2 separate regions of the Homo sapiens genome follow, and region 2 is linked to region 1. The links come from fine-mapping of genetic effects on gene expression. A gene starts in region 1. The other region holds a variant in brackets. All regions are shown on one strand. Distances are from middle to middle.

The links.
Region 2: its variant is fine-mapped to the expression of SYBU in nasal epithelium (TOPMed, PIP 0.99).

Annotation. Positions count from the first base shown.
Region 1 is chr8:109,636,426-109,653,183 of GRCh38, reverse strand. It overlaps SYBU (syntabulin), which reads left to right and starts at 8,362. Exons shown (of 7, transcript NM_001099754.2): 1 at 8,362-8,548; 2 at 10,252-10,456. The coding sequence starts at 8,525. It overlaps SYBU-AS1 (SYBU antisense RNA 1), which reads right to left and starts at 9,055. Exons shown (of 2, transcript NR_161375.1): 1 at 8,962-9,055; 2 at 2,456-8,066. RefSeq lists enhancers at 7,678-7,997, 7,659-8,595 and a silencer at 8,108-8,597.
Region 2 is chr8:109,575,702-109,589,077 of GRCh38, reverse strand. SYBU (syntabulin) reads left to right here. Exons shown (of 7, transcript NM_001099754.2): 4 at 2,916-3,018; 5 at 9,076-9,279; 6 at 11,061-11,210; 7 at 13,065-13,376. Among named protein-coding and RNA genes, the nearest start is that of EBAG9, 42 kb to the right of the region's middle. The variant A/G (reference allele first, on the strand shown) is at 8,519.

The sequences.
Region 1 (16,758 bases):
AGATGCCTAGGAATACATAATGTAGTGACCATATGAACATCATTTATCATTATTGTTTTAGAGAGATTTACCTGACTGTTCAGCTAAAATGGAATTACATAGTTTATCCTCCTCTGGGTCATTGTGAATTGAGGAAGGGGAGAAGAAAGGAGACCAAGAAATCTATTGTTAAATCCCCAGTTTGTACAAGGGACTATGCTGGGCTTATTACAAGTGTTATAGAATTTAATCCTCAAAATAGACCTATGAAGTAGAACCACGCATGTATTTTACAAATAAGAATACCAAGATACAGAGATGTTACCTAGCTTGCCTAAAGTGGTTCAGCAGGTAAACAGAAGAAAGGAGTTTGGAACCATTGTCTATCAAAGCACCTGCTCATTATTTCACAACCACCAAATAATGTTCCATTTATTGACATCCAGTTTCGTATAGCCGTATATTTTGAAAGTTTTCTGAAATTGCCCTGAGAGTTAGAATAAAGGCATTATTAACCCTTATTACGTTTCAGGCCAAGAGACTTTACCTGTCAAAAAAAAATTTCATGAACAAATCCATAGGTGGCAGTATAACATGGTGTTCTTAAAATGTCAACTATTGCTAATTAACAAAACACCAGGTATTGTCTTGATGCCGTCCTAGGTGATCAAGATTTGAGAAAAATCCCTTTCTTCTAGAAGGTTACATCCAGGCAGTAAAGATTCAAGGGGAAGCCCAAAAGCTGTTTTCCTCCGCATCAATCCTTGGGGCCTGGACGGTGGCAGAAGTATCTCAAAGTAGGGAAAAAAAAGGGAGAGAGAGAGAGAGTAGAAAAAGAAGGAGGAGGAGGAGAAAAAGGAAGAAGAAGAGGAGGAAGAGAGGAGAGGAACAATAAAGAGAAAGGAACTCTGAAGAAACCAGATTATAATAGGATGTATTCAATGCTTCAAAATTCATCTTAAAACTCACCCCTGAACATCTCAGACCCCAGTCTAATTTAGATACTGGCAAGCCCTCTGGGTGTCCAGATCTCATGCAAACACACTGAATAGTTTATCAGCTGATGGTCATGTCCGTGTCTCTATTAGACCTTGGGACACTTGAGGCAGCAATCATTGTTCATCTTTGAATACTTCGGAACTAGTGGCTGAGGCAGTGCATGGCTCAGAATAGGAATGAAGTAAGAAGTGATGGATGGATGAATGAATGAATGAATGAATGAGTGATAGGTGTCTGTGCATTCATCATGCCTTCTACTCTACCTTCTGGAGGAAAAGTCCTGGCAATATCTTTTCTAATGAGAAATTCAGTGTCCTCCTTTATATGCCATAAGTCATCGAGAGAAAACTTATTGCTTCCCTTTAATAAAAATTAAGATGAAACTTTTTAGGATGAGGTGAATGTGAAACAAGCAAGCAAGACACAGCAATGGTGGTTGGAGCCATTTGATCCTGAGGGACAGAGGATATCTATTAAGCTCTAACCATGTGCCAGATATAAATGCTAGGCTTTGCGTCTGTTCTTATCTAATCCCTATAACTGTATTATGAACTAATTACTGTTATTAAGTTTATTTTCTAGATGTGAAAATGAGGCACAGAAAAGTTAATTTGCCCAAAGACATTAACTAGTGCAACTGGTTCTTCTTTCCTTTTTAGCTAATGTGCACATACTGAATGTTGAGTCCTACAGGGGTTAAATAACTTGACTGGAGTAGCACTGTCAGAGCAAAAAAAAAAAAAAAAAAAAAAAAAAAGTCTCAATTTCAGGCCTATGAGACTCAAGAATTCATGTCCTTTATTAAACTACATTTTCTCATCACAGATGTTTTTCCAGACTTGGGAAACTCATTTCACTTTCCAGTGCTTCCCTGAATTAGGTTCACATTATGGCAAGCTGGTAGCTGGGCTTCTGATTAGAAAGGGGCACAGGTACTTTTCTACCAGCCTCTGAGTTAAGGTCATTTCTCCAGCCTTAGCTTTGCTAATTCCCCACCAGCAACTTTTTCTGAAGCTTCAGATGGGTCCGGTCTCCACCAGGACCAGATATCTAGGAAGCCATCCTGAAACTTCTAGGCTTCCAGCAGCAGCCTCAGCTGTTTGTCAGTAGTGATAAGGAGGCCCGAGATCCCTGTATCTCAGATCAGTCCCTGATAATCTGAGAAAAGACAGAAGGGAGTAGTAACTTCACTTGCCATATGCCACTTAGAATTTCATTCTTATTTTAACATGCTGGTTTTGATGCACAGTAGATAAGCCTGAAAGTAAATACATGAAACTGCTAACAGAAGGAATAGGGATAATTGATGTTAAGGCAATGAGATAATGAGTATCTTTTTTCTTTTCTAAAATTTTTATAACATGGTTTAGTATCCTTTTTTAAGAAAAAAATAGTTATCATTTTAAAAAGGCATATTTTTTCTCTTGATAAGCAGAAGTAGCTAAAAAGGACACATGGGCAGATGAAACTACATAGGCCAGATTCCCAAATTCTAGTTTTATTTTCCTACAAATTCTTCTGCAGTGCGTTAGAGAGGAGCTGGGAGTACACAGCAAAGGCTAGCTTTACTCACAAGGTCACAAGATTTCAGGTATAAAGGACAGTGGTTCACAGGAATAACCTAGGAAGTGGGAATAAAGCAGCAATCAAAACTATCCTCAGCTCTACAACTGCACCAGTGACCCCCACACCAACAGCCCAACCATTCCCTGCTGTAGCTGCCATCATAGTAGTTGGTTGGCCTCTGGGGGTGCTCAGCTCCATTTGGCAATAGTGTTCTTGCTCTTTGAGAAGAGACACTCAAAGTCTTCCTCTTTTGCACCTGCTCTCATTTTCTCAGCAGAAATAAAGACAAAGTTATTTTTTAAGATGTTTACTAGAAAGTGGAAGCAAAAAATATAAAATCATGGAAATAAAGTGCATTATGGAGAACATATTGTTTTTAATGTAACTCAAATCTACCATTGTTCTGCTTTCCAGGAACCCAGATTACAATTTTTTTTCTAAGCCTAGACTGCTATGGATGCTGAGTGAACCCCTCAGAGCCTCCAGCCTGTGTATCTGCTCTGTGTCTGGCATGTCTGAGAAGCATCCTCTCTCTATAGCTGCCCTCCTGGGTTCAGGCAACTTTCAGCTGCTTTTCCCACACTTTCTGGTTTCTTGGGGAAGGAAGGTGCTTCTCTATTAGCCCCAGAATTCATCTACTGGATTTAGGCTTTCCTTTTCATGTCTTACAGATAACATCCTTTGCCTTTTCTGTACACCTGTGAGACCAACAGATTGTCTAATCACATGAAGCATTTCACTAGGTAAATGTCAAGTCTCAGTTTCCCCTACTTAGATGGCAACCTTTACACGCATACTTTCCAGAGCGTCTTAATTTCAATCATTCTGATTCATTTTCCTAATAAGTGTACACCTACTTGTCCAACAATGTGTCCCCATTTTGTTTAATGCAATCACCGTGCCTATGTTTTTGACAAATATCCTACCCTATTTTCAAAGATGAACCAAAGGCCACAAACAAAAAGCCATTTTGGGGGAGGCTATCTCATGTCTGCTCTCCCATAAGGCATCAGAGGATTAGACCCTTACCATCCTTCAACGTTCCAAGCCCCCAACCTCTGCCTCTTCCCCTGGACTTGCCCTTAATTTCTGTTATTCACTGAGAGAATACTCTGACTGAACACTCGTTTGTCGGGCAGAGATAATTGACACATTCTGAGCCCAGTGAATGTTCAAGCATGGCCTGCCTCAGGTTACCCACTGCCCTCTCTGCCCCAAGCACCTCTATGCCACCTCCTGGGGGAGTGATCTTGTGCAATTCTAGTCATTTCAGTTTTACAGCATCAAAGTACCTCAACCTATAGTAATGATAACACACATACATTAAGACAAGGGTTGGGCTGGGCACGGTGGCTAATGCCTGTAACCCTGGCACTTTGGGAGGCCGAGGCGGGCAGATCACGAGGTCAGGAGATGGAGACCATCCTGGCCAACATGGTGAAACCCCCATCTCTACTTAAAATAACGAAAATTAGCTGGTGTGGTGGTGCGCGCCTGTAGTCCCAGCTACTCAGGAGGCTAAGGCAGGAGAATAGCTTGAACCCAGGAGGCGGAGGTTGCAGTGACCTGAGATCGCACCACACTGCACTCCAGCCTGGCGACAGAGTGAGACTCTGTCTCCAAAAAAAAAAAAAAAAAAAAAAAAAAGGAGGAGGGTTGATCAATCACACATGCTCTTATGGGAAAACAGGCAGCTCTCTCCCTGGTAAGAAAAATATGGGTCTCCACCCCACCCCACCACACACACAAAAAAATCTCACGATGCCCCAGAATGCAGTTTCTTTCCTTCGTGACGTGTTGTGAAGCACGTCAGCTGCTCCTTGTTGCTGTGCAGATCACCCAACATTAGGTCACCGAGAGAGACAGCAGCTCTTGCTCACACAGCTGATAGGATTAGGAGATGGTGCTTTGTCAGCCCTGATTGAGCCCAAGAAAACCCCCTGCATACACAGGTGAGATGTGAGGAAGAGTGAATGTGAGGGACCGTGATGTGTCTGGGTTGTTTGGTGCAGGCGTTTTCTTTTCAGCAGTGCATTTGTATTGTCTTCTCTGTGAAGTTTGCAGTCTAGGGGATTCCTATTAATAAAAATCTATGCTTTTTCAGTTATCTGGTCTCAGAGATTGGCCACATGTACCTCACGGGATTTTTGTGAGGCTCAAATAAAATTATATATGTGAAAGAGTTCTGAAAATATAAAGTTTTGTGCATACGAAAGGTAGGAATCATTTAATTACAAATTTCACATAAACAATCAAGTAACTTATCCCAGATTTGAGGGAATAATTATATAAAGACATTACCTTCCTTCCCAGTCTACAATACCCTATCTCTCCTGTGCTTTGCCAGGAGATATATATATATATTATATATATATATTATTGTATATATATATTATTATATATTATTTATAATATTTCAAGGTTAAATCCTAAAGCAATTGATATTTTCTAAAAGCCAGAAATACATTAATTTTTAAAGAAGCCAAAAGGTGATAAAACAAGACCATAAAGTAAGTCTTTAAGTAAAAAATGAAAATGATGCATAAGACTATTTTAAAGCAGGGGAAAGAAGACCATATTATGCTGTATTAGATTATATCTCTTTGATGGTATAATCCAAATGTTACAAGACATTTCTTCTAATGACATGAGAAACACTTGAATGAAATTAAGGCGGCATAGATATTATCATCGGTAAAACTTGCCTTTTAGAACAGTGGAAAAACAGGCTTGGGTTCCAAAAGTACAGAGCTAAGAGGCATCTGAACACTAAATCATCAGCCTTTCCCTCTGCTAGGTTGCTATGGCGACAGCAAGGCTACTGCACAGCCTCTCAGTGCCTGCACTTCTGCAGTAAAAGCTGTCACTGAACACATGTTGGATTTTTTAGGCACACACCCAATCATCAGATACAAATACATTGTGGAGGCAGCTTTATCTGAATCATTTTCAAAACAAGTTGTATCTATGTTCTTTATCTTGCACTGATGGGCCCCTTATGGGGTTATAGAATTCACTCATTCAGGCATTAATTCATTTGACAGTTATGTATTGAGTGTCAACTGTATAACAGGAATTGTACTAGGCACTGCCTACAAGCTTTGGTGAAAACAAACAAGTAAATGGGGAATTCTGAGGAGATCATAACAGCTCTCTTGGGGGTAAAAATAAGTGTCCTGGAATCATCAGGGGAGGTTTCCTGGAAGAAGCTGTCTAAAATGAAACAATGTATCTTTAAGAGTTGAGGAGGATAGGTGGATGTAGTGCAAGAAATGTTCTAAACAGAGGCAGGTGCAGCAGTCTCGACGAAAAAGAGAATACAAAACCTCCACCTCCGAGAACTGAAAGTGCTACAGTTTGAGCAGTATCCATTTGTATGTAAGGGAAGAGTGGCAGGGACCAAAGGGACAGGTTAGGGAGGGGAGGGAGTATCTACAAAAGAGAGGAGTGGCAAGAAATGAGATCGGAGAGGTAAACAAGGCGGCCAGATCAGGAAAGCCTTGTGTGCCACATTAAGGAGTTTCAGTATTACCTGGAGGACAATCAGGAAATCATTAATGAGTTTTCACGGAGAAGCATGACTTGATTTAGCTTTTCATAAAGGCTTGTGGAAAAATGGAGACACTGATCGGAGAGAAAGGAATAAGAGGCAAGGCTGAAAGCAAGAGACCTTGAGTTAGACCACTATTGCAATAATCTAGGGTGACTGTGGTTTACACTCTACACGAAGATAATGGAGACAAATAGTGGACAGAAGTAATCAGATTCAAGACCGTTATTACTTGGGTGGCATAGAGATCACTTGGTGGTTTATGCTATGTGTGGGTCAGGTGAATGAGAGAAAAAAGTCCACGATGACACTGAGGTTCTGACTTGGCTAACTCAGTGGAGGGTGTTTCTGCTATTAGGTCCCCAGTGTCAATTCTCAATTCTAAGTAGGGAACTCAGAAGCATCCATTAACTTTAAAAGTTTGTTCTTATCTCACAGTATATGATCCCAGGCTCATAATTTTAGGAATAATAAGTTGTATGAATCATCCTGGACCATCACTTTCCTGAGGTCCATATTTGAAACAGCTGTGGGTGTAGAAAGTATGAATTAATCACCTCTTCTTCCCAAATAAAGAATCTTAAAATTACCAACCTCACTGCTTGAGAGAGCTAAGTAGATTGAAAAGGCATGAAGATTTATGGAGGAAGCTCTCTTTTGGAGTTATAGGAAGAAGGGAAATTGATTCCACTAATCCTCTGGCTTCAGGCTCTCTCTAGACTCACAACATATATTCTTAGGCTTGAGAGTTGAGGACTCAGAAATGCTGTTTGGAGGATGGATGAAAGGGGACAATGACCCTCAGTTTTCGAGGAGCACAGTCCTCCTATGTAGGACACTGGTGCATAAGGATCAGAGTGTCGCACTGCTTGGAATATTCTCCAATTCTGAATAAAGGGTATATAAGTCATTATACATGGTGAATTCCACCACCAGATAAGATTTAAGGGTAGCAATTGTAATAAATCAAGGCCCTTGGCCCAGCTGATGTACCCTATTCTAAGTCCCCAGTTGGACAGATTTTCGAGCTTTCTTAAACAAATTTGTGTGCATCACAAATGCTTTTTCTGCCTGTCATGTAAAAGGCATCAACAAATATTGACTGGATCATCTGGACCTGACTTAGCTGCCCTTTGGAAAGTTCTGTTCAATCAGCTGGATAGAGCTGTTTGTTTTCCTCACCTAACCCTCACAGCTATCCTAGAGGTAGGTATCACTATTATTATCCCTCAATTTAACAAGGGTAAATTTGAAGTTCAGAAGGGTCAAGAACCGTAGGCGTAGGCCACGCATGCAATGGCATCCGCATGTAATTCGAGCACTTTGAGAGGCCTGGACGGGATGATCCCTTGATCCCAGGAGTTAGAGGTTGCAGTGAGCCCTGATCGCGCCACTGTACTACAGCCTGGGCCACAGAACGAGATGCCGTTTCAACAGCAACGGAAAAAAAAAAAAACAAAAAACGAAACAACAACAAAAACTTTAGGCATAAAGGCACTCAGGCTGAAGGGACCGATTGGAGTGCTGGCTTGAACTCGTTTTTCTGAGTTCAATTCCAGTGCTCTTCCCTTAGCAGTGTGCTGGAGCTACTTCCTGGAGCCGGGCAGCTGCAGGGCAGCGCTGGGGAAAAGACTGTTCTCTGGCTACATAGCAGCCTGGCTTCTCCAAGCCGGAGGGAGCTGCGCTGACCACTGAAGGCCTTTCTGATGCAACCCCTTCCAAGTAGAATCCATCGCAGCCTTTCAGATCCCGGAACCCAGAGGCTGTGTCGGTCCTGACGCACTGGCTTGGCTGGGCTCCGGTACGAGAGGGATCTCTGCAGCTCTCGGGCGAGGCAGTTGTGGGGAGCTGTAGGCTGACTTAAGACCTGGAGGCCAAGGAGGGGTGGCCAGGGGAAAACTTTCTCTATTTTGTCTCTCTGTGATGTCGCAGCTTTTCTCAGTCACTCCATCCAACGCCACCCACTTCAAACCTGAGATCAAGTGCAAAAAAAAAAGAGGGTGGGGTCACCCCTGGGCTGGAGATGCCGCTAGCCGCAGCCTGCCTACACCGGGCCGAGCTCCTTGGAGAGGGAGGGACACCGGCTCTGGCTGGGGGGGCGCGGAGTGCCGTGGGGAAATCGGGCGGGTGGGGCGCGCCCAGGCGCGGTCGAGTTGCCCCGAAGGCCGCAGGTGAGGGAGGGCGTGGGAGGCGCCCCAGGAGCTGCCTCTAGCGAGTGCGGCACCACGTGTCCGGCCGGGGCGGGGTCGGGCGTGCCCTCGGAGCCCAGAGCAATCGGCGGCAGTGGCGGCGGCGGCGCGTTGGAGCCTCACCAAGAGCCGCCGCCCGCAGCCCGCGCCGGCTCAGCGCAGTCTCCTCGCTCCGTGCTCGCAGGTGCCTCCTCCTGGACGGCGGCAGCGGCGGCGCGAGGAGCCGGCGGGCAGCGGCGCGATGGGGCCCCTCCGCGAGAGCAAGGTAAGGAGCGCGGGGCAGTGCGGGCACTGGAGGGCGGGGAAGGCGGGCACTGCGGGGCGAGAAGCGGCGGGATGAGAGCTGGAGGGGTGACATTTAGAGTCTGGGGAAAGGTGGAAGGAGGTGGTGGTGGGGTCTGGAGAAGGCAGGAGGCATTGCTTAGGAGTTGAGATCCAGGAGATGGGGAGGTGGTACTGGAGGAATAGATTTTGGAGAATGACATGATTGGAGGGTTAATCCCACCTCCTGAAACTGGGACTGTGGGGTGTAGCTTTCAGTTGATATCCTGTGTGTGTGATGTGAATGAAAGGAATTTGATGCATCCGCGACTGGGAAAAGAGGACTCCCGCGTGTCAGTGACCCTGCCTTAGCTCAGGGTCTGCGGTGTGCCCGGCGGAGTGGCTGGCGCATGGTACCTGCTGGGCGGCAGATGTGCAGGGCGAATCCGAGGCTGCGTGCGGCTGGCGGCCCCCGGGTAGAGTGGATGCCTGAGGGCCCTCCGAAGTTCCCCATTGCTGAGGTTTACCCTTCAATTTATGCCATGTGCCGGCCTCCCAGAGGTGTTTATTTTGGCCGTGACCCTTCCTGGTAAGCCGGTGGAAGGAACAGTAGGTCATGTTTCGAAAGGGTGTTTGTTACCTAAGCCAAAGAGTCCCTTTCAGTGGCAGAGGTTGGAGGAAGCAGTGGAATTTTTGCAAAACGCTCCTCCTAGGAATCCATTTTCATAAGGCAGGGTGGTGGTGACCCTGCAAAGCACTGGATTTGAATTTCGTTCTACTTCTGGCATGGTGTGCAGAATTGCCTAAGCATCTCTACCCCATTTAGCCTGTTTCCTCATCTGAAAATAGGGACATTCATTGGTGTGCTCTCTATGTACAGTCTGGTGTGTAAAGATCAAATGAGAAAATGGTTGGAAAAGCACTTTATAAGTTGGAAAACATTGTGAAAATATTACTGTTACGCATTTTTAAAACCACGAAATGGCAGGGTACTTCATGCTGCGTTTTTAAGGAGAAAGAAAAATCTCTTCTTATGGATGTCCTGTAAGGAAAACAAAAATTAAAGATGATGTAAAAGGTGGAGCCATCTTCCCGAGTATCGGATTTGTGTTTGCTTTTCTGTTGGCAACAAGCCTTGTGTACCAGGATATTAACGAATAATTAAGATCCTGTCCAGAAGAGGAGGGATTTTAAAGATAATTGTGTGTGAGCTATCAGGAAATAACTGTTCCAGGTATAGGGTTCAACTTTGTGAGGAGACAAGAAAACAAGTCAGACTGTCACAGCTAATTTAGGGAAAGCAAAATGGAAGTCTGAAGGCTATCAAGTAAGCCAGAGTGTGGTGTTAATAAAGAGCCTTTGGGAGGCAGAAGCTTGAATGTGATAGAAGTCAGGGTGGGAAGGTGAGTCAGGACCAGCATAGGGAAGTAGGATGGCCTTCCAGCTAGTGAGTGGAGGTGTGTATATGTGTGTGTGTGTGTGTGTGTGTGTGCCACACAGACATGTGCTATTCAGTAGATTAGAAAGGTTAACTCATTGGAAGAGTTTTGAAGCTCATTTCAGCAACTGAGATAAGAAGGACTACTCTGTGAAGACTCAATACTCAGAAATGTGATTTCTTAGAAATTGATCCTTGAAGGAACCGACAGGAGTTAAGAGAGGGAAACGCGTTTCCTTTTGTTTTCTTTTTTGATGTCCAATTTTGAGAAGGAGCACAGAGTGCAGCATCATGACAAGGAGATTTCTCGAAGCCGAATTCCCCGGTTGATTCTTCGGCCCCATATGCCCCAACAACAGCACAAAGTGTCCCCAGCCTCTGAGTCTCCTTTCTCTGAGGAAGAGAGCAGAGAGTTCAACCCCAGCAGCTCTGGGCGCTCAGCGAGGACCGTTAGCAGCAACAGCTTCTGCTCAGGTACAGTACCCTCGGGAGGCCACCAGAGGCGTGAAGCGTGTGCACTGCAGGTGCATTGTGAATGGGCCCATACTGGGTCCCTTATAGCCTAGAACTACACTTCTACTATTAGGATGAATTGTAGAAGGTGGTACATTTCTGGCTGTTGTGACCTACAAACACAGCAGTTTCATATAGTTCAGTTTATTGGAATCTCACACCTGAATTTTCATATGTTATTCTAGCTTATAATTTCGAATGTAAAATCTAACTTCTTGTTTCTATGACTTTTTTCCTTTGTTTTATTATACTTTAATTTCTGGGATACACGTGCAGAACATGCAGGTTTGTTACATAAGTATACACATGCCATGGTGGTTTGCTGCACCCATCAACCCATCATCTACATTAGGTATTTCTCCTAATGCTATCCCTCTCCTAGCCCCCACCCCCTGACAGGCCCTGGTATGTGATGTTCCCCTCCCTGTGTCCATGTGTTCAACTTCCACTTATGAGTGAGAACATGCGGTATTTGGTTTTCTGTTCCTCTGTTTAGTTTGCTGAGAATGATGGTTTCCAGCTTCATCCATGTCCCTGCAAAGGACATGAATTCATCCTTTTCTGTGGCTGCATAGTATTCCTTGGTGTATATGTGCCACATTTTCTTTATCCAGTCTATCATTGATGGGCATTTGGGTTGGTTCCAAGTCTTTGCTATTGTGAACAGTGCTGCAATAAACATACGTGTCCATGTGTCTTTATAGTGGAATGATTTATAATTCTTTGGATACATACCCAGTAATGGGATTGCTAGGTCAAATGGTATTTCTGGTTCTAGATCCTTGAGGAATCGCCACACTGTCTTCCACAATGGTTGAACTAATTTACACTCCCACCAACAGTGTAAAAACGTTCCTATTTCTCCACATCCTCTCCAGCATCTGTCCATTCCTGATCTTTTAATTACTGCCATTCTATGACTGTTTTTAAAGATGCATTCCTTTGTTAAATGTAGAAAAAATATTGGATTGAATTTTATACTAGCAACTTCTAGAAGCCTGTGTACCTCTAATTATAAAATTCCCCAAAGATAAAGCAATTCCTAATAAATGAGGTCAAGATCAAGGAGAGTTATAGCCTAAGGCTGGCCTGGCCTTATGGTTTAGTAGGGAAGAGCCCAGGCTTTGTGATCTGTCAAGCCTGAAGGGCTGGAATCCCTGGCCCTTTCACCACTTACATACTGTGTGACCTTCAGCAAGTTGCTTAACCTCCTTAAGCCTTAGTTGTTACATCCATAAAATGAGATTATAATACTTGCCTTGTAGAGTGGCTGTGAAGTTGAATGAGACCAGTACCTAAATGTTCACCTTACACGGTACCTGGCTTACAGAAGTGCTTAATAAATGATGGTTCTTAATACAAGGAACTATGGATGTCTGTTTGGGCACGTGATTAAGAAAGTTTCCTTAAAGTTGTGAGCATGTTTGGTAAGGGCACAAATCTCTTGATAGTTCCTGAAGGTGCCACCATTATCATTTGACAGAGCTTTTTATTCCCATTGAAGCACATGACTTAGAAGGAGTTACTTGAGAAGTATTAGGAATTTGGGTAAAATTTAAAGGAGTGACTGTCTTATGACTAGTGAAGAATGTTTCACAGTGGATAATGTTTTAGAACTTATTTAGGGAACATGGAACTTGAAGATTAACACATGTATGAGAAGAAACACATGAATCAGGATGCTATGATTAATGCTCTAATTTAGCAGGACCTAACATTCCACTGCATTTAGGGCTCACAGCTACATTTTTCAAGGATTTTATAAATGCAGCTTTGGATTTATTACATACTTCCACAAAGTTATTCTGTCCTCTGCATAAGTTGTATGTTGGAAATTCTGCACTGCCTACTTTTTTTTTTTTTTTTTTTGCTAACTAATTTTTTGCTAACAATTTGCTAATCAAATTGTCTGCTTGATTCTGAAAAAAAAAACCCTATCAAAATATTATGTTTTAAAACTTATTTCTTTATATTTGAATCACATGAATCTAGTTTAAGATGGAAACCCACTGCTGCTTTGCCTACTATTCCCCCAAGAAGAAAACAAAAGGATAACTGAGAAGCTATCACAGTTAGTATTCCTAGAATCTAGAGTCATATTTGCAGAATGTAATGCTGTTTACTTTAACTCTGTTTTGGAGCCCAGAGCTCACCCTGGTGAGTGTGGATGAACTCTGGGCACGTCATTTCAAACTGACAGAGCTTTGTGTACATAACTCAGTTCCACATTTATTCCTGGTATTCTCTCCCTGTAATCAATTCCTCTGTGAGGGATTTCAGGGTGAGTAGTGTTATCAGAAAAAAAGAAAAAGTTGTTCAAAACAACAACAAAAAAAAGGAAAACCCCAAATATATTTTAGAATATATGAAGGCAAACCAATATGATTATTGATTTTGGTTATGAATCATTCTTCCCCGGACCCACTTCCTGAATCATCCTCCTTCCTAGGAGACCTGTCTCTGGCTAAGGCTATAATGCTGTACATGAAAATCGAAAGTAGATATTGATCTTTTTGCTATTAACTAGATGAAAATTGAGTGGCAGAAGCATATAATTATGGGTGTCTCTGAACAACCTTTCAATCTTGAGCCTTGCACCCTGCCTGCAGATAGGATTTCCTCCATTCCTGGGCCTCTCCCTCATCTCTCTTCATCTTCCTGTGCTGTCAGTTCCCCAAGGTTTGAGTCTAATGCCTTTCTCTTCCTTTCCTACAGAACTCTGATAAACCCCACAAAGGCTTTTGAGTGCTGTGTAGGCTAAAATTGACAGCAGCAAGGCCTTTGGGGGCATGTTAATGATGCTTTAGGAGGCCGGTTGGTGGGTGGAAAATAAATGGGTTTGGTACTACAGGGAGTGTTAACGCTGGAGGCAGTGAGATAGAGAATGTAAGACATGTCCAACCAGCAGGGGGAAATCGCTCGTTTTAATCCAGCCACTCCAACACTGAGGCCAGAAGGTGTGTTCGTTGTTTAATCACGGCAGTTAAGTCAGAGAACAAGGTGCATACAAATATTAAAAAATACCATCCTTTACTAGAACAAAGCTAAAATAATTTAAAGGGATCTATTGTCATCATAGCTTCGCAACCTTCCAGTAATCCTCCTGTATTAGCTTCTCTTCTTTATAAATCATCACATTCACTCATGTAAAAGGGGCCATGCCTAGTTAAGGGAATTCTTACAATCTGGTAATGAAATTATAGAGGAAGGTGTCACCTCAAATGCAATGAAATTTAATTTGAAAATTACATTTTCAGAACTGCAAACTGGAGACTCTTTCCTCAAATCTATATCAAAAGCATTAATTATGAAAAGCGTCATATGTTCTAAAATTTTTACTTTTTTAAAAAAGATAATGTAATGAGCTTCATAAACATTTATAAACATTTATTTAATACAAAGAATTATACTTTATTTTGAGAATCTGGCTTTTCTATCATTTGTAATGAAACAAAAATTCATGATAGTGGATGGTAGCTATACTTCAGCAAAACAAATGTCAACTCAATGTTGATGTTTTCTCTACTCCACCCTCAAGTTTTTCTTATAATTTTACCGGCCTGTGAAATGAAAAGAATAGAACTATTTCCAAAGTGATCTGTCCATTTTTACCCACTTTCTGTTTTCCCTCCGCACTCCACTGCCTCCCTCTTGCTTTCCCATGGGAGCTTTGGCAAGGAACATTTAATGACTTGATATTCTATATGCTAATTTGTATGTTGTCTCTGCCTCATTTCAGAGGGAAGAAGTTGTGTGTGACCTTTTGCAATTCATTTGGGGTGTGTCCCCAAAGAGCTTTGTTTTTTTTAATCGCTTCTTCTTAGCGAAATTTCTTTGAAGATCTGCATGTGTTTTGTGCATTTCATCAGCACATGAGTGTTTTTGTGCTTGGACATCATTCTAGTCTTCAAACAGTATTCCTCACAGTTTGTACTCAGTCTTGGTCGCTATGACCTTAGTTGGAGACAGTTAAGTTTATACAGTATTAGAGGTCAGGCCCTATTTTATGTGCACAGCAAGTAGAACATTGTACATTATTAATAAATATTAATTAATGCTTTATTTTAAAAATACGTAAGGAAGTACAGTTAATAGGAAGTTAATAGAAACAAAACACCTCCTTTCCTGTCCCCTTTTAAAAAAAAAGTTTTTTGTTTGTTTGTTTGTTTGTTTAAACCAGCGTTTTGGCATAAAGTCAACCTGTCTTTTCTCCCCCATGTTTCTTGTTTTTAACACAAGAAGTGATAAAGCCCACATTGTTGGTTTGTGTTCTGGGTTTGGCCCATTGAATGTAGCCTCTATCCATTTTTCTCCCCCTTTTCTGTAAGTAGTGAATTGTGTTTGTTACTGTACCATGACCCTAGCCACTGTTAGAAAAGCCGATGACCTAGGTGAGTGTGTCAGGCACATACATCAGTCACCTGACATGGTTAGCAGCATGCCGTGCATTCCTCTTTGCTTAGTTGAGGCAATAATTACCCCCTTAGAACTGAGAGGCAGATGGATTGCTGGCTTTTAAGCTAGTTCTCCTTGGGGCGCCTTGTAAACATGGCAGGTGGAACAAATTATGCAGATAGAAGACTAGTTGTTTTATGGGAGAACAGTAATTTATCTGAGTTATTTTCATGTTTCTAATGTGCACACACAGATACACAGGCAAGTGTGCGACTTAACGCATTAAATACATGTACCAGGTCAATTTTTTTAAATGGTCAAAATCTGAGATTCTTTGCAGTCTAATCCCAAGTAAGGTGTTTGCAGAAAGTATTTTGTTATTTACAGTAGCTGGGAAGAAATCTTTCTTTGAGTGCCAATGACCTAGAGGTAATCATTGTTGCTGTTTGTGGCACAAGCAATTAAGGCAAATTATAACCTGACTGGTGCCCTGTTGAGGCATGACAACGCCTCCAAAAATTTGCCAGGCCTTGCCAAACAGAAATATTTCTCCTGTGCTTTTGTACAGTTGGGGAAACTTGGCATCTGGATAGAGTGAAGCTTTGAACATAATGATTAGAACTGAGATGAACTGCTTAAAGTGAAGTGAGCTGCAATTCCAAATTATACTACAGTTGAATGACTGCTACCCTCCTGTGAATTTAAAAAAAAAGACCCTATCAATTTAGTATCACTTTAATGAGACCTAGGAAATGTAGTATAATAAATATTTCAAATGCTTAGCAGCCTCACCACAGAAGCATGTACCTAATGAAATAGATTATAAACGAAAGGCATATAGGCAGTATTTCTTTGAGAATGTGGTAACTGCAATTTGCCAAGAGCAAAATTTTTGCCATTTAATCAACAATTCTTAGCAGTAGGAATGGTGAAAAGTAAACATGATGGAATTGGACTATGTCTGAAAGCAAATTAAGGTACTTAACCTGAAAATCTTTCAGGTTCTAAAACACCTGTCTTTATGAGAATGTTTTCCAATTTTAGAGTATGGTGTTTGCCTGCTTTTGAATCCTCAGTAAAACTTGTTTAAAATTCAGATACAATGGCCTTACCCCAAAACTATTGTCTTGAAATGAAAGGGCTCAGGAATCTGCATTTTACAGGCTTTCCAGATAACTCTTGTGCACACTGAAGGCTGAGCCTCACTTCTTTGTGGTCTGTGTGTATTTGGGGATTTGGTATGAGGAGTATGAGGGGTATGCCCAAAGTAGCATCACAAGATGAATAAGGATCAAAGATGGTAGAAACGGTGGCCAGCCAGGCTGTTTAAACCAGTGACCATGGGGCAAGGTGGATGTGGAATGATGCCTCCACAGTCCCTGGAAATTGTAGTTGCTGACTCTATATTTACTGGTCCCATGTCATTAGTCTTAGCCATAATATTATTTATGTCTACATAATAGGTTTAACTTGTGTTCAGATGGTAGCAAAGTAAGGAGGAGGAGAAAGAATTTCCTTTTTTATTTTCCTATTTATCCTCTTTCTGAATTTACTATATCTATACTTTTTACTATTTTGCATATTCTTTTTGTGATATTGGGATGATTTGGGGTTACGCCAAAAGGGGATATACTGATACCAAGAGTATACCCTGAACATCCAGTAGATTCACTGAAGGAGGCAGAAAGAAAAGAAGCTGAGGCCTGGAAGTGATAGGACATTCAGCCTTTTGCAAGCCTTCGCCAAAACATGTTTATTCAGTAAGCATCTTTAAATGCCTACAAAGGATCAGGAATTGTGCTTAGGCTACAAAAATGAATGATACACAGGGATTAGAAAAATCAATTGTTTTACTGCCTTAACCCTGA
Region 2 (13,376 bases), 62 kb after region 1:
AGCAATTCTCCTGCCTCAGCTTCCCAAGTAGCTAGGATTACAGGCGCTCACCACCACACCCAGCTAATTTTTGTATTTTTAGTAGAGACAGGGTTTTGCCATGTTGGCCAGGCTGGTTTCGAACTCCTGACCTCAGGTGATCCACTCACCTTGGCCTCCCAAAGTGCTGGGATTACAAGCGTGAGCCACCATGCCCAGCCGAGTTTCTATGTTTTTAGGTTAGGTACTCTGTGCGTGATTTTAATAACCCCAAAGAGCACTGAAAACAATACCTTAGTTGCATACACTGTTTAAAGGAAATGAATAAAGAATGCCTCTCCTTCCTTGTATCTTTGTTGCCAACTAATAGATAAATGGCGGCGGGGGCGGGGGGTGTGATTAGGTCTCCAGCTTTTCTCTTAGTTATTTTGCTTAGTACATGAAGAAAGTATATCAGATGATGTATTACATTTAGCTTTCCTGTGTATCCCTTAAAAAGAGTTCACTGATTTTTACACTGCATTAACCAGGTTACGTTCTTTAAATTCATGAACTGAAATAGTTGTGAAGTAGTATATACATTTTTCACTATCGTACTATTCAAATAGGCCTGAATGCAGCTGCAGGGACCCGAATGTGCCTTCTAATCTCTTTCAGATGTACAGAAGGTAAGAGAGGAAAGTGCTGAAACAAAGTGACCTTAGGCCCTGCAAATACATAAAAGTCAGTATATTGAGTTCCAGTAGCAATAAAATATAGAACAAAGTTGTCCTTTCAGTTCAGAGAACATAATTACCACAGATCAGAAGCACCGTGGGGTAACAATGGATTTTCCGCAATTATCTGTTCCTGTTCTAGAATTTCTGCTTTTAGGCAAGCAGTTCAATTATAATCGATGGGCTTTTGTGAAAGGAATGAAAGCTGAGTGTTTTTCAGAGTAATAATTTCACATTAGAAAATAGTATCTTAAACCTGATGGCTGTAACTGAAGGATCTATTTTTGAAAATCACCTACCTTTATCATTTAATAACCAACCTGATAATTTACTAGCAAACAAAGCTGGTTGAGTTAGGCCGTCAGGAATCTCATGCTGCTGGACTGCATTACCAATCATGAATCCTTCAGATTGTAAACTACTACAGTTTAACCAGTGTATTCCTTAGAGTCAACTGATTAAGTTTGGGGAGCTTCTAGGAGCTCATTACATCATTAGACAAAGTCTCTGCAATCCAGAAGGAATAGCTGGTCTCAGTTCTGATAAACTACCTTGCTAATCTTCCCAGAATTCTACTGGGAGCCAGGAGTCACTGCTGTCATTTGGCTAATGGGTCATTCTTGGTCTCTTTCCTAGAGACCTGGACTTGCTAGAGGCTGGAGTTCCTGAGAGCTCCTGGAAACCAGGGAAAGGATTTTTTCTTCTCTCTGCCTTGTGATTACCTACCTTCCTCTCTAGCAAAACTAACAGAGGCCATCAGAAAGAGAAATCTGTTCCCTAGTAGGCCAGAGTCTGGCCACATCTTGTACCTATGGTTCATGTTGACCTTTTAGGGAGATGGTAATGTATAGTTTCTTTAAGAACTTCTCCTGTTCCCCTGCTTCTTCCTACTGCCTTTCTGAGGGCAAAGCATAGTATGGGAGAAGTAGCATGAAGATTTGGTCCTGGACAGGATTTATCACCTATAAGCTTCAGACAAACAGCTTCAGTTTTCTCAATAGTAAAATAGTGAGATTAATGTCTATTTTACAAAGATGTCAATATTAAATAATATATAGCATAGAAAGTATCGTGAACAGGGCCTGGGACCTAGTAAACACTCAATAAATAGCCATTGTTATGATAATTATTGTTCACTGCTTGTTAGAAAATCAAGGATTAGGCTATTCATATTTTCTTTAGCTCAGAAATGTGAGCTGGCTCTGGGTTCTAGACCAGAAAAGGCACAAATTATGTGGTAGGAGTTGAGCAACAAGGTCAAATTAAACTGTATACCTAGACTTATTTTTCAGAAGCACATGGTACTTCACGTTTTTAAAAAATTCTTTTTCTTCTTCTCATTGTCTAGCTTGCCTCTTCCACCTCCCCTTACTTCCCCAGGCAGTGTATGGGAATGTTTCCATTATTACTCTTTCAGAACTACATATTTTTGTTAGAATGAATTTATATAAATTATTTTACTGCACAGCATATTTATATTATAATTACACACCCACCTGTTGTCTGTACTCAAAGTATCATGTGATCTTTGCAAACTAATGAACATCCCTACCTGTAATCCCACCCTGAAGCTAAAATTCCAAATTTCAGTGTAATTTACAGGTTCTATCACTGTTAAATTTCTGCTTTTCTGTTAAGGATCTATTCTTTAAAGAAAAACCAAAACTGCAGTCAGAGAAAGTCACCTCAGATAGTGCCAGTGCAGCAGTCTGGGAGCCCAGGCTTTGCTCTTTCCTGACTGCCTCTCATTGGTTAACTGTCTCCAAACCTAACTTGCCAAATTGAAGTATGAGTAGCTGACTACAGAAGCCCAAAGATAAACTCTCTTGGAAAAACTACTCTTGGACTGATAAGTATTTTATTTTTCTTTTGCTTGAAATAGGGTGAGCCCGTTGTTGTGGAGTGAGAGCCTCACATACGGGAGAACAGTGCATTTCTTGATGCACTTGGGTCACTGTTGACAGTGTCTGCAGGAAGACTGGCCTCTTTATGAAACCAGCCTTACTGTGCATCTTAGCTGTGTTTATGAAATGATGTTCTTGTACTGGGCCTTCTCTTGACTGCTTTGAGGAAAATGCTGTGAGCCTGGAAGCCCTGGAATCTTGGCACTTGCCAATAGTGTGCAAACGCAGGGAGCAGGGACCTGGAAGGCAGGGAACTGGCCAATGTGTTCTCTAGTTTCCTTTCCCTCACGCTTCTCTCTCCCCTGTTGTTTTTCAGGTAGTGAAGCTGATTTTAGCTCCTCGAGCAGCACAGGCAGCATTTCCGCTCCTGAGGTCCATATGTCGACTGCGGGAAGCAAGCGGTCTTCTTCTTCACGCAAGTAGGCACCATCTCCTGCTCTGTAATTAAGACGCTTTACACAGGTGACTCACCTGCACCTGTGCATCTGTAGAACCACCCGGATTACTGTCCGTTCATATTTTATTATTCAGTGAGGCTTTTTGTTTTGTTTTTTTACAGTGATTTTAAATTGGTAGTTTTTCCTGTCTTGCCAACTGTGGTCACATGGCTCACCTGTGTTTGTACATCCATGGCTGTCTCCCATCCAACCCTTGACTCTATGCCCACTCCTCCTGTCCCTTCTCTCTTTCCCTTACTCACCTGTGTACTCATCTGCATAGGAAGCTAGTGGTCTCCCACTTCCCTCCTACCTCCCCTCTGTGAAGCTATGAGTCTCTTAGCTGTGAAGCCTCTGACTTCACCCTTTTTTTCTTCTAGCTGGACTTCCATTTTTAACCTCTGTGAAGGAAGCAGCTACTCCCTGACCACTCCCAGCATTTACCTGGGGAAGGAGTGAAGAAAGTGTAGTAACGTTCATAGGCATGGTGGCCACCCCATAGAGCACACCAGCTGGGTGTGTGGGCTCTGAAACCAGGCTGCCTTGGCTCAAATGCCAGCACCACCAACTCCAGGCTGTGTGGCTCTGAGCAAGTTGTTTAACCACTCCATGCCTTGTTTACCTTATCTGTGAAATAGACCCAGCCACCTCAGAGGGTTTATTGTTAGGATTAAACAAGTTAATAAAAGTAAAATGCTGAGTCAGAGCATGGAGCATAGCAAGCATCAACCAATTCTCTCCATTGATGTTATTTGAATTGGTGGAGAGGACTATGAGACATGGGAGCCACTATGCACATTCAGTGGGAGGGACTGTAAGCCCCAGGATTCTGTGCTTGCCACCAGTGGCTTTGTTTATTCATTTAACAAGTATTTATTGAGCATCTACTATGAGGAAACAAAACTCCACAAAATTATATTCATTGTAGTAGGACAAGAAGGACAATAAATTGAAAAATAATATAATTATTTTTAAAAACACTCAGGGGAAGGAGATAGAGAGTAATGTGGTTTGTGGTATATTTTAGCTTGGTGGGTCCTAGGATACCTCAGTGGTGAACTGAGCTCTGAGCAGAGACTTAAAGAAAGCTATGGAGGGAGCCACAGAACGTGAGGGGACCTGGCTTCTGACTTTGTCACGTCACTTGATTCCCCTGGGCCACGGTATCCAAAAGACAGTTGTACTGTGTGACTTTTTAAGGTCTCTTCCTGGAGAAAATCTATTTAGTTTCCAAAAGCCTGCCTTTCCAGGACTCAGCAAGCAAATATTTTCTATTTCTCTTGGGTGAGCTGAAGATTTAGCAGATGTTTATAAGGCGACCTGAGACCCCCAGGGCACAGTTTTATCATTAAAAATACAGCTGAAGCCAGACAAACCTGTAACAAAAGAGTGAAGTCCGCAGTAATAAAGCACAATTGCTCTATCCCCAGCCCCCACCCACCACCACCATTTTGGCAATAAAGTGCCTCTGGGATTATAGGACATGAATGTAAACATTCTGTGTAAATCAGATGTGGCTTGCTCTAAGAATAAACCATTTATATAACCCACTCAAGAAATTATGACATACACATGGAACAAAGTATCAAACAATATAGAAAGGCAAAAAGATAAAAAAGGAAGGCCTGTAGATGAAGCCAACTTAAATATTTCAAAGGAATCAGTGTTTGTGGTTAAATTCCAAGGTTGTGTCAATAATACAGAGTGACTAAGAGAAAATATTCTAGTCTAGAATTCATGGTCAAAATTTGACATATTAAACATAAAATAGCCAAATATAATTATATGCAAATCAGATGAATGCTTCTGTTAGTATCTGTTATAGCCAAGCAATAATAGACTTCAAAGGTTTAACAAAAATTAATAGATGGAAAATTGAAAATGGCAGTGTTCTATCCATTATCCTCAGTTTTTAAAAATCTCAGCCATGCACAGTGGCTCATGCCTATAATCCCAGCACTTTTAGGAGGCCAAGGCGGATGGATCAACTGAGTTCAGGAGTTCAAGACCAGCCTGGCTAATATGGTGAAACCCCGTGTCTACTAAAAATACAAAAAAAAAAAAAATTAGCCGGGCATGTAGGTGGGTGCCTGTTATCCCAGCTACTCGTAAAGTTGAGGCAGGAGAATTGCTTGAACCTGAGAGGCGGAGGTTGCAGTGAGTCAAGATTGCACCACTGCACTCCAGTCCTGGGCAACAGAACAAGACTGTTTCAAATAAGTAAATAAATAAATAAAAGAATCTCACCCAGGCACAGAGTACCATCAGTAGATTTTGGTCATGGACTATCTCAGCAATGTCACATAAATTTTGTGTTCTGGAGGGCCACGCATGGGGGGGCAGCTCCTCTAGAGTAGCTGGGTATCTCTGCCAAACTCTGTAGTAGTTTGTGATCCTTTCAATTGGCTGCTTCCCCATGTAGTGAATGAATTTTCTCTGTGGAGAATTAGCTCCCTGAAGGAAGGCTAACAGGAAGATTGGTCAATCAGTGGGACATGTGAGGAACAGGTGGAGCTGGTGAGAATATTTTTGACGAGTTATTTTTAAAACAAAAACTTTAAAGGCTTACAGAGTATCTTGTCTCATAGAAGGGCAACTCTGCTGATATTTCTAAGGAATTATCTTTCTTAAACTAAAACATGAATCTGTTTGGAAGATAAAAATCAGACAGAAAAAGAAAAACCTTGGGATTTGGAGTCAGACAGACCTGGGATTGAGGTTAGCCTCCATTATTTATCAGGTGTATGACCCCAAGCCTCAGTCTCCTGTTTTGGGATATGGGATAATAATAGCATCTTACCTCACTGAGTTAAATGAGATGATATGTGTGAGTGCTTGACATGATGCCCAGAACTTAGTGAAAGCGTTGGTAAAAGGTGGTTTTTGTCAGTAGGGGTGAAAGTAGTACTAGGAGACATGGTACTGTTGCTGTTGCTGCTGCTGCTGCTGGTGGTGGTTATGATGGTAATCATGGTGGTAGTGATTATATTAGTCTGCTAGGGCTGCATAACCCAGTACCATAGACTGGATGGCCTAAACAACAGAAATGTATTTACTCACAGTTCTGGAAAAGGGAAGTCTGATACCAAGATGTCTGCAGGGTTGGCTTCTTCTGAGGCTCCTCTCCTTGGCTTGTAGTGGCCATCTTCTCCCTGTGTCTCTACAGCATCTTCCTTCTGTTTATGTCTGCTCAAATTCCTTCTTTGTATAAGGACACCAGTTAAACTGGATTAGGGCCCACCCTAACTGCCTCATTTTAACTTAATCACTTTTTAAAGCCCCATTATTCTGTGGTACTGGGAGTTAGGGCTTCAACATATCAATTTGCAGGGGGTGACACAGTTCAACCCTAGATCATGGTGATGATGGTGATGATGATGATGACGATGATGATGATATTACCTGAAGTCCAGAGCCATGGTCAGGGAATCGAAATTCACCTGAGTCACTCATGAGGTGTCATCTTCACTCCTCTGTCTATGACCTTCTAGTTACGTATTCAGGTTTGTAGAAGGGTTCAGGGTCAGCAGAATTTTCTTTCCTCTTTGTGGACTGCGTTTTTCTTGTCCACCAGACTGAAGGATCTGGGATGGGCTGAAGAGGACAGCATTGGGTTTCACAGTTCATGGCCATGACAAACATGGAATCTCAGTGTCTCCTTTGAAAATGTTTCCTATCAATGCCTATAATGAGTTTGCACCTATACATGTTAGCATTTGAACTACTAAATGAAGAGAACTGATATTTTTAAGCATGTTGCTTCTTTTTAAAAAGTTAGCTCTTACAAACTGTCTGATAATTTATTTCCTGATCAATATTCAGAAAGCACCTGAAACAGCGCCAGGGTCACAGAAGGTCCTCAGTGGAAGTTAACTCGTAATAAAATTCCCCAGGTCAAAATATGGGATAGCTCTTTACATTCCTGCCTAAGGTGTAATAGCTAATCTTCCATATTTCTCATAATCAGATTAAGAAATAGTCTGGTTGATGCCAGACTTAGAAGTGAAGCATGGAAAAGAAAATGCACACCAGGGTACATGTTCCTTTCAGCTACTCATGAAGTTCTTTCTACCATGGGCTGCTGAAGTTGGTTTTGTCACAAAGCCATCAGCCCATCTGTTCCGTATAAAGTGTCCTCTTCTCACGAAGAGAAGAGCGGCGTTCATTTGAATGATTTCAAAAGGAAATAACTTTAACTTTAGAACTTGGTTACGTTTTATTTATGTCTGATTTGCAAGGTTGACAGCCAGTTGAAATTATATTTGATTGTAAATAAGTGATCATGGTTTTGAAGCCAAGTGTACCCACATGCACACTTGCATTCACATTTACACACATTTCTCATTAAGATGTCAGTTGGATACAGCTGTAATTAAAATTGCAAAGAAAGGTTTGTCAGAAAGCAGTACTACTATATGAAAGCTATCTTGTTTTCTCTTTTTTTGCCATCAAGTAATATTCCTGACATAGAACTTTATCCTGTTTAAGTAATTTCAACATTCTCAAGATGCTTCCTTACACTACTGGGTGTCAAATCTCTGTCAGGATTAATGGTGAAGTTTGAACAAGTTTATCCTCTAATAATACTCTACAGTTGAGTTACCCTTAATAGCTTGTGGAATGTACTCACATGCATTCTTTGATTTGATTTTCACATCAATTCTGTGAGGAAGGTAGGAAAGGGGTGGGTGTGTGTGTGCATGTGTGTGTGTTTTGATCCCCATGTTAAGTGGCTCACTTGCCTAAGTTCCTACTAAGTGGCAGTGCCAATGACTCACACCTGGTTTATTTATTCAGCAGTCCTTTAGGGAACACTTACCATGTATCAAAAGTAGGAGGATAGAAAGAACAAGCTGTTTCTGCCCTCAAGGTTGCCCTAGCCTAGCAGGAAGGACAAATAAGTATGCAGTTGTGACGCCATGTGATAAGTCCAATGGTAGAAGTTTGCACAGAGTTTTAGGGAGCATTAAGGAGTGTGCCTACACTGGCCTAGGGAAGGAAGAATATAGAGAAGGCTCTTTAGAGTACGTTCCCATCAGTCTCAAAGTAGGAAGTATCCTGGTATCCAGGGGCTTAGAGAAGGGAGCAGGTGAACATTCTAATTAGAGGAGATTATGAGTTCAAAAACCTAAGGATGGTCAAGCATGGATCCTTCAGGAAACTGTAAGTGATTTGGAATGCTGTAGTACAGAGGGAGGAGGGAGGAGTGAGGAGTGGTGGAGGATGGGGTTGGATGGAGTAGTGGGATTGGACCTTGTGAGCCATCTTAAGGAGGCTGGCCTTTGTTCTGGAGGCAGTGGGGGACCATCGCAAGGCTTTGAGGAGGATAGTGAATCAGATTCCATTTTGAAAGGCCACTCCAGCCACAAGCCAACCTTCTACTGGAGGGAGCAAGGCAAGAGGCAGGAGAACCAAGATGGGGCTGTTACAGTATTTCAGCAGTTAAATGACAAAGGTTGTCTTAAGTCACTGGGGCTAGAAG[A/G]AAATGAAACAAAAATTTTAAGTAATCAAAATTACCAATGATGCATTTATGTGTGCTCTGTTTATCTTGCCCTGTTTTCTCCTCCTCCTGTATGGGGTACCACCTTCCCCCATCCTCCAAATGAACCGCATTAATTTTCTTACCCTGACATGAACCAAATGCAAATATTTCTAAACTGAAACAGGTGGACTAGAACAAAAACCATATCTTGAAAACAGCCTCCAAAATAAACAGCCTCCAAAATAAACCTGAGCTAAATCAATATTCTACATTGTGTATGTTCTTAGCAGGCTATTGGGTGTTATCCAAAAAAAGCTTTATGGTCAGAAACTATTTGAAAGAACAACAGAGGGAGAGGTTGCTTGTGCTGATGTCACAAGGAGAGAAAATACCAGGCAGGTGGGAAGAAGGCCGCTCCTAAGGACAGTCTACACGAATAATTGTATTGCGCCTTTCAACTCTATAAATTGGATTTCCTTAGATTTAAGGAGTAAGACATTAGCCCTTGGGCATCTGTAGCCCCAAGAATTTTAACATTTTTCATTCTTTTCTCCCAGTCGAGGTCCTCATGGGCGGAGTAATGGAGCTTCGTCACACAAGCCTGGCAGCAGCCCATCATCCCCGCGGGAAAAGGACCTTCTGTCCATGCTGTGCAGGAATCAGCTGAGCCCTGTCAATATCCATCCCAGTTATGCACCTTCTTCCCCAAGCAGTAGCAACTCAGGCTCCTACAAAGGAAGCGACTGTAGCCCCATCATGAGGTGAGTCCTGCTCACCTAATTCATGCATCTTAGTTTGTCCTACTTGGTAAGCTTTTCTTTAAAAAAGAAAAAAAAAAGTTATACAACTCTTGATCCCTTGCCTGATTCTACAAGACACTGCATTTTTCTTTCCCACATTCGGCTCATTCCTCAAGGGCTGCTGCAGAAAGAGCGCAAGCCACAATTTCTAACAAGGCACAGCAATCTAAGCAGTTCCTGAATAGGGAGAGAAAATGCCACAGAGGCAGCAGGAGGCTGAGGCAGGAGAATTGCTTGAACCTGGGAGGCAGAGGTTCCAGTGAACCGAGATCACGCCACTGAACTCCAGCCTGGGCAACAGAGCAAGACTCCATCTCAAACAAACAAACAAACAAAAACAACTTAAGATGATTCTGTAGGCACCTGTTGCTACAGGGGTGTGTGAAAGGTGGGGAGGGTGTCCAACGCAGTCTGGAGCGATCAGGGGTGGCCTCCCTGAGAAAGTGAAATGGAATTGAGGTCTGAAGAGCAAGCAACAAGTTAATTCATATGAGATTGTAGGGAGTGTGGAGCAGAAAGAAGGAACTGCATTTCCAAAGAGGCCACGACAGGAGGACTGGATGGTGGGCATGGACACAGGTCATCTTGGAGGCAGGCAGGTGCTCAGGGAGCTGGCAGCATAGTGGCTGGGACTGGGTCCAGAGTCAGGGAAGGAGCTGGCTGCCCTCCTCCTTCGGCCTTCTTCCTGCTGGGCATCCCTATTCTCGTCAGTCAGCTCTCTTACAGCAGGGATTCCCAGCTCCCAGCCAGGCCTGAGAGGGGCCAAGATTCCAGCAAGGGCTGTTTTGTAAAACATTGAGCCTGTCTTACAAAACACACTGGGGAGAGTTAAGTAGAGGAAGAAACTTCTTCCCTTCAGAAGAAGGATCTTTCCATTTCCTCCAAACTGGCATACTCACAGCAGGGATTGATTTTAGAACAACTTGCATTCAGCAAATAGCCATCAGGATCTTTAGGCAGTGGCACACTGTGCAGAAAGTTAGGTCCTCTGGCTGGCTTCCTTCTCTTCTGCCCGGGCCCATCCCCTGACCCTCACCCACTGTGCTGCATGTTACTCTGAACTGACAGCTCAGGCACCTGGACAATGGTGCATTATTTTGTATGAGAACATTCCTAAGCCATAGAGAATTCTCCTCCTCCACGGTCCCTATTCTCTCCATAAATACACCAATACCCCCTTCAATCTTCAAAGTAATTAACAGTCCTAAGATCGGCAATTCTATTACAGCTCACCTTCTGAAGTGAGGTCACCCATTATTGAGGTTTAAGACCCCAGCACACAGCTACCATTCCTTCTCAAGCTGTTAGCTGTGTCTGGGTCAATGTGGGTGGCTATAACAAAGTACTCTAGATGTTGGTCCAAATCTTTCGAGAACCATGGGCTACATACTGTAGGTTTAGGTCTGAGATCAGGGTGCCAGCAAGGTCTGGTTCTGGGAAGGGCTGTCTTCTGGGCTGCAGACTGCTGACCTCTTAATGTATCCTCACAGGGTGGAAAAAGAAAGCTAGAAAGCTCTCTGGGGTTCCTTTTATAAGAGCATTAATCCCATTTATGAAGGCTTCACCCTTATGGGCTAATTCCCAAAGTCGTCACCACCTAATACCGTCATATTGGGGTAAGAAGTTCAACATATGAATTCTGGAGGGACACAGACATTCAGTTGATAACACTCTGTGTTACTCTTCTTTTTATAGAAAAGGAAACGGCAAAAAGTAACATTTCATTACTTGGATTGTTTCAGGCGTTCTGGAAGGTACATGTCTTGCGGTGAAAATCATGGTGTCAGACCCCCAAACCCAGAGCAGTATTTGACTCCACTGCAGCAGAAAGAGGTGACAGTGAGACACCTCAAAACCAAGCTGAAGGAATCTGAGCGCCGACTCCATGAAAGGTGAATCTGCCTTCCTTGAACGGTGGGGTGTAGGACAACTTCTTTCTCCATAAAATGAAATATGAACCCAAACTATAGAAAGATAGAAAAGAAAAAATGATTGTATTCAATTTTGGTCAAATTTTTAAAGTCAGCCTCTGAAAAGAGTCATTTCATAACTCTGTGTGATATGGCTGTTTCAGGAGTTCAGGGAGGCCCGTAGGTTAGAGGGGAACCTTTGTTTTTCGTTGTTGTTGTCGTTTTTTGTTGTTGTTGTTTTGCAGTGTATACAGCTTTGATGTGAAATAATCAGGTGTGTGCATGACTATTTTTAAATGGCAAAAACACGTGCGGGAACAATCCCATACTTCCAGCAGAATGGGTCACAACCGTGGACCAATTAAGCCGTGTTTATATCCGTGCATGAATGGATATCTGTGTGCATTGTGATTCCTGCATGCTATTTCTGTGCCGAAGGAAGGGGCTCATTGTTCTTGGCCAAGTGTTAAGGCTGAAAAAAAAAAAAAGCCCATGCTTAAGAGATCTTATCTGAGGGAGAAGACTTTTGACATCTGGGCAGCAGGCCAGTTTTTCTGCTTGATCATTTTCCCCTGGAACATTTTGGAACAGACCAGGAAAGCTCTGACCAGGGTAGCTGTGAGCTCAGGGTGAGGGTGGCATGTGCATTCTCTAAGAGTCTGGGCTACCTGATCAGCCCAAACCTCCTCTTCTGCTGCCACAAAGATATAAAGAAAACTCAATACCTTGGTTGCTAAAACTGTGGGCAGGTAAGGGTGCAGACTGCGAGGAAGGGAAATTTTTCATCTTCCGAATTAATCTGGCTCATCATCTGTCTGAAATAGACTTGAGACCCAAACTCCCCTCTGGGGTGAGTCAGACCTTATGTCTGGAAGTGTTTGGTCTGTGATTTGCAGAGTCCATGGGAGGATTGGAGCACTCGAGGAAGGAATGGGAATGCAGCAAAACTTGGGAAAATATTCTAGCCTAAACTTAAATGAGCAATATTGATGTCTCTTCATATATATGAGGATCCTGACTACCCTATCTTCATATCCACTGAGAATGTAAGGACTGAATATGAAAAAATTATATATAAGAAAGAATTTATATACAAAGATCTTGAAATAGGGTTGTCCTGTGAAGGATCTGAAAAATAGGATAGATTCTCCTTAGTGTAGGATGAATTCAATATTATCCTACCTGAGAGGAGACAGAATAAGCAGCTTGTCATCATGTAAAGTCCCTGCCACGTGTAGCATTTTATTATTTCAAAAATGTTTATCATTGGAATACCATATGAACAATTTAGCAAGGCTAAAACTTATCAGTCTACCTTCTGTCTTAGGTAATTAAAAGTGAACTGGCCTTCCACAAACTATAGACATTTGGAAAGGGTAGGATATGGAGATAAAAACAGGCTAACAGATGCTAAGATGTTCTAATAATAAAGTTTCAAATATTAAGGATTGAGTAGAAGATAAGACTTGTAACACAGTGCAATATCCGACCCATAATGAGTACTCAAAAAAAATTGTGGTAGCTATTTTGATTCTGATTCTGATTACTATTATTACTTTAGCCATTTTACAAGTAAAGAGAAAGTTCACAGCTAATCTCCGCCAAAGAGAAAATGTACTGCTTCTTTCAGTTTAGGCTGGAGTGTTTTCTCAAGTTTTTCTGTGTTCTCTTGAGTTCCCTGCATTGAAAACTGATTTCACATCTGTATTTCAAGTGGAAGAGTATGAGCTCTTGGCTCTGTGCCAGAACTGCCTGAACTGCCTGTTGCCCAGTTGAAAGTTTTTTTTTTTTTTTTTTTTTTTTTTTTAATTAACCATGCTTGTCTTGGCACTCTAGGGAAAGTGAAATCGTGGAGCTTAAGTCCCAGCTGGCCCGCATGCGAGAGGACTGGATTGAGGAGGAGTGTCACCGGGTAGAGGCCCAGTTGGCACTCAAAGAAGCCAGGAAAGAGATTAAACAGCTCAAACAGGTCATCGAAACCATGCGGAGCAGCTTGGCTGATAAAGATAAAGGCATTCAGAAATATTTTGTGGACATAAACATCCAAAACAAGAAGCTGGAGTCTCTCCTTCAGAGCATGGAGATGGCACACAGTGGCTCTCTGAGGGACGAACTGTGCCTAGACTTTCCATGTGATTCCCCAGAGAA